Regions from separate parts of the Homo sapiens genome. Here region 1 is linked to region 2. A link means that fine-mapping ties the variant in region 2 to the expression of a gene that starts in the linked region. Tissue or cell type: whole blood. Region 2 holds a variant in brackets; the other region holds the start of a gene. All regions are shown on one strand. Distances are between the middles of the regions.

Region 1 (2,612 bases), 160 kb before region 2:
TCTCGGCTCACTGCAACCCCCGCCTCCCGGGTTCAAGCAATTCTCCTGCCTCAGCCTCCTGAGTAGCTGGGATTACAGGCGCCCGCCACCACGCCCGGCTAATTTTTTGTATTTTTAGTAGAGTTGGGGGTTTCGCCATGTTGGCCAGGCTGGTCTGGAACTCCTAGCCTCAAGTGATCCACCCGCCTCAACCTCCCAATGTGCTGGGATTTCAGGCGTGAGCCACTGCACCCGGCCTGACTACTCTTTCCCTGGCAATTGCTGCGTCACCAAGCCCCAACCCACCCTGCTGAGTTTTCCTTCCAAGACTCCCCTCCCATCCAGCCGGCTTGAACCGGCCTCCAGTCACGTTGTTTGTTCAGCTAGAATTTTTCTCTGCCTTCTCTTCAAGGCCGCTCAAGCTTCATGAAGCGGTTCTTTATTCTGACTATGCCCACTTCTCTCATTTCCCTCATCACCCGGCCCCGCTCCACATACTGCATTTATCTATAAACTCCTGAGAGCCAGGAGTTTAGCCTGAAATCCTAGCTTCCTGGTTAAGAGCTGAAATGCCTTCGCACGGCGTGCAATGGGTGAACCCCACCGCCTGCTTTCTAACGGGTCCAAGCCGCGGGCAGGGGCCTGTGTTACGGAGCCGCATGACACACCAGGCCTACTGCTGGACCCCAACAAGCCTAGCCTCTGTGAATCCAGCTGTCCTCACAAACTGTCTCTTCGGGACACAAGCCCATCAGAGGCTTCCGTTTTCCTTTCATAAGATCTCATAACCGTCAGCTGATACCTGGGACAGGCACAGCACACATAGGTCATTCTAGAAATATTGGTGGTCTGAACAAACTCTAAGCTGGAGAGGACATGAGAATGATAGATCCGATTCCTTCTCTCAACAGAAGAAATCAAGGCACAGAGAAGGGAAGAGACTCGCCCTAGGTCCCACAGCAAGCAGCAGTACTGGAGCCAACACGGAGGCCCCCCGGTTTCACGGTCAGGGCTCGCTACGCTACACCCTGAACGCAGACCCAGGGCAGCGGCCTCGGCCGCCTGAGGCCACTGCCGAAGACTTCGCCGCCAGTCGTAACATCACGTTACTTCTGTCCCTCGCCTCACAGACTCCTTCGCTCTTTCCACTACAGCGAGAGGACTTCTCCAGGGCCGCATCACCCTGCGGAGGGAGGAAGACACGGTCTCTCACGAAAGGGTCTCCAGACAGTTCCGCTGCTCCGGGAGCAGCCCCCGGCCCCGCCCCCGCGTGCGCCTGGCCCCACCCCCAAGCGCTCCATGACCAGCCTCCACGTGCATCCGCCCCAGACAGGCCAGGCCTGGGAGGAGCCGAAGCCCCACTCCCCGCCTTCTTCATGAGATCGTCCCTATTGACGTCGACAGACAGAAGCCGCGTCCAGTGAGAAGGAAAGAACGGCCGCTATAGCCCTATCGGCTGCTACAACACCAAAACGCATCCACCTAACTGGCTGACGCTACACCTTGGTCTTTCCGGGTCCTTGCACGCTTCGCTCCAACTCCTGCAGAGCTGAGCCGGAGGGGAATCCGGAAGGGACACGCTGAACAGGTAAGACTGTGCTGCCTGGGGTGCCTACTGGCATCGATTCGAGGGCTGCCGCGCTCCCGCTGCAGAGCTCGGGGTGGGAGACAGGCGCGGCGAGGAAGGCCAGGGAAAGGGGCGGGGAGGGGCGGGGAGGAGTGAGCACGTGGAACGCCGGCGCCACCGGGCCTAGGTGGCAGCTGGGCCGGCGCGCTCCGCCCGTTCTGGGGCGCGTGGGGCCCTCCGGCCGGATCAGTGCTGCAACCGTAAACACGCAGGGAGGGCACCCCGAGTGTCGCCGCTGAGGGCGTTTCTCTAAGCGCTTCTCTGAGACCTGCTGCTGAAGGCCCCACCCGACACCTGGCGGGGGCTGGGCTGCGGGCCTTGGGGCGGTGTCCCCTGTGAATGTTCAGGTCAGCATAACAGGTTAGGTGTGGTTGAAGCTTACGAAGTGGCCGGCTCTGTGCTGCCGGCTTCACAGGCGCTAACATTTGCCAGCGCTATGATGTCCTTGTCAGACGCAGAAAGGGGTGCAGTTTGGTTGTCCGTCGGGGTAGCGCACAACTAGCAAGTGATGGGGCCTGGGTTTGGCCCTCGCCTCCACTCTGAGTTGTGAGTTAGCGAGAAAGCCACGCCTCGTGGGCTCCCCGGGGGCTTCAGAAACCATGACGCCTTTCACCATGGTGTTCTACAGGCATTGTCTTGTGACTCCAGCAGCGCAGCCAGAAGCAAAGAAAACTGAGGGGACGGCTTCCTAGAGGAAACAATTCCAAAGTCCCAAACTCTGATTTTAAATAACGATGGAAATTAGAGTCGCGGTGGTGTTCTTTTTTTTTTTTTTTTTTTTTTTTTTTTGAGGCGGAGTCTCGCTGTCGCCCAGGCTGGAGTGCAGTGGCACGATCTCGACTCACTGCAGCCTCCGCCCCCGGGGTTCACGCCATTCTCCTGCCTCAGCTTCCCGCGTAGCTGGGGCTACAGGCGACCACCACCTCGCCCGGCTAATTTTTTGTATTTTTAGTAGAGACGGGGTTTCACCGTGTTAGCCAGGATGGTCTCGATCTCCTGACCTCGT
Region 2 (2,756 bases):
GTGGTTTTGACATGACCCTGAACACCTTTGACAGCTGCTTTGTTATCTGGTATGACAATTTGTTCTAAGGTCATCTAGTATAATAGGTTTTCGGCCCCAGACTTAGAATCAGCCATTTCTCCAGGGGAAATTGTTTTGAAGATCACGATCTGGACACTAGGTGCACTCATATTAACAGTGGTTTGGGATGGGTGTGGTGGCTCGAGCTTGTAATCCCAGCACTTTGGGAGGCTGAGGCAGGCGGGTCAAGAGATCAAGACCATCCTGGCCAACATGGTGAAACCCTGTCTCTACTAAAAATACAGAAATTAGCTGAGTGTGGTGGTGCGCTCCTTTAGTCTGAGCTACTCAGGAGGCTGAGGCAGGAGAATCGCTTCAACCCGGGAGGCAGAGTTTGCAGTGAGCCGAGATTGCACCACTACACTCCAGCCTGGTGACAGCGCGAGACTCCGTCTAAAAAAAAAAAAAAACAAAACAGTGGTTTGGTGTTTGCTTTTAGGTTTTTCCAGTGTATACTAATTCAGATTCAGGACTAAAAGGTTTTTATTTAGCCTGTTTTGTCATATATTTGTATCTCCTTTTTCCCCACACTGAGGTCCCCGAGTTTCAAGGCCATTGGGGATGATAAACTATTAATTACTGAGTTGCTTTATCTTGCATTGCACATATAACAGTTTCACACTAACAACATTGACACTATCATCAGCAATATGATCATTTAAAATTACTTTTCTTTTTTTTTGAGACAGGGTCTCTGTCTGTTGCCCAGGCTGGAGTGCAGTGGGGCAATCTCAGCTTACTGCAACTTCTGCCTCCCGGGTTCAAGCAATTCTCCTTCCTTAGCCTCCCTAGTAGCTGGGACTACAGGCATGTGCCACCACACCCAGCTAGTTTTTGTATTTTTAGTAGAGAGAGGGTTTCACCATGTTGGCCAGGCTGGTCTGGAACTCCTGATCTCAGGTGATCTGCCCGCCTCTGCCTCCCAGAGTGCTGGGATTACAGGCATGAGCCACTGCGCCCGGCCTAAAGGTACTTTTTTGAGGGGCATATCTGTTTGTCTTTATGGTATATCACACTGAAATGTCAAATTTACTATTTTAATATCAGTAGTTTTTTTCTGTTTCCTGTCATTATATACATATTTAGATTTATTTGATTTTATTTTCAATTTGTTGGTTGCTCTTCTTAGATTTAATTTTGTTTTAATATTTCTGTTAAAGTCATCTTAATAGTGAGATTGACTAGTTATAAAAGGA[A/C]ATAGATGTAAGTAAAATAGACTGGTAACTAGGATACAAATTCTGTAATTTAACATCTCAGAATTGAAAAGTGCATTGTTTGTGTTCCTGCAGTCTGTTCTTTCTTGTGGCTGTTTGGAAGTCTAGATAGGGTGAATTTATGAAATAATTGACTCCTTTCTTTTTTTTTTTTTTTTTGAGACGGAGTCTCGCTCTTTCGCCCAGGCCGGACTGCAGTGGCGCTATCTCGGCTCACTGCAACCTCCGCCTCCTGGGTTCACGCCATACTCCTGCCTCAGCCTCCCAAGTAGCTGGGACTACAGGCGCCCGCCACCGCGCCCGGCTAATTTTTTGTATTTTTAGTAGAGACGGGGTTTCACTGTGTTGGCCAGAATGGTCTCGATCTCCTGACCTCGTGATCCACCCGCCTCGGCCTCCCAAAGTGCTGGGATTACAGGCATGAGCCACCGCGCCCGGCCAATTGACTCCTTTTAATCATGAATTTCATTGACTCTGCTAAATATTTTATTAGAGCTTCTAATGAGTAGCAGTTTGTCTGATTTGAATTTTTCTTCCTCTCTGTTTTTCCCTTTTTTTCCCCTTTGGTTGTTTGAGGATACTAAAAGTGAAATGGTTATCAAAGGGAATTGGTGGACAGGGGTGGAATTATGAATTGAGTGGTCTTTGTATTAAAACATTTGGACTCTAGTGATTCTACTTTTCCATAATTTTTTTTCTTTTGTAAGTGAATTGGTATTTCACTAATTGTTTTCATCCATTGCTAGCCTTCGGATTCTGTGAGTACAAGGAGCCAGAATCTACCCTCCGTGCACTCAGATTATTACATGACCTGCAAATTGGAGAGAAAAAGCTACTCGTTAAAGTTGATGCAAAGACAAAGGCACAGCTGGATGAATGGAAAGCAAAGAAGAAAGCTTCTAATGGGGTATGTTTTCTGTCGTGTTATCTTTTCTAGGCCAGACTGTGCTATTTCAGTGTAGTGCTTCTCATTATAAATGAATCTAATATGGGGCTTCAAAAGATCATCATGTATGTGCTTGTGGCTTAATGTAGGAGGGTATTTTATAGTTTGTAGTTATTTTAAGTCTTATCTGCCCATAGTGGGTGGATGACTGTTGGTTTGCTTGTTCCAGGTTGGGATGAAAGTAGTAAGGGAGGCTGGACAAGGTTAACTTGCCAGAGAAAGCACTGGTACAGACTATTCCAAACAGAGCTAATTCATTAAGGCAGCTTTGTAAGTAAGTACAAAATATATTTCAACCTACACAATTTTTATTAGTTTCCCTCTCTTTTAGAAGTACACCGACTCTAAAATGAATGAAAGTCTGATTACTTGCCTTAGGTTGGGGGCTTTATCCAAGCTCTACTAAGTGAAGCTAAAATAAAGGACATTGTTGTATATTGTATTTTAATGTATACATTATTACCTCCTCAGCAAAGTGAAACATAGCTAAAACTTGAGTATATATTTCCTTCATTTCTCTTCTTAGTTCCTTTTTG

What was found. PIP is the estimated chance that this variant, and not a neighbour inherited with it, causes the effect.
Region 1: DCAF4 starts here. The variant in region 2 is fine-mapped to the expression of DCAF4 in whole blood (TOPMed, PIP above 0.99).

What each region holds. Positions count from the first base shown.
Region 1 is chr14:72,924,977-72,927,588 of GRCh38, forward strand. It overlaps DCAF4 (DDB1 and CUL4 associated factor 4), which reads left to right and starts at 1,488. Exons shown (of 14, transcript NM_015604.4): 1 at 1,488-1,567. RefSeq lists enhancers at 1-466, 867-966, 1,257-1,526, 2,198-2,612 and a silencer at 1,697-1,756.
Region 2 is chr14:73,085,981-73,088,736 of GRCh38, forward strand. RBM25 (RNA binding motif protein 25) reads left to right here. Exons shown (of 19, transcript NM_021239.3): 6 at 2,021-2,181. Among named protein-coding and RNA genes, the nearest start is that of RBM25-AS1, 28 kb to the left of the region's middle. The variant A/C (reference allele first, on the strand shown) is at 1,257.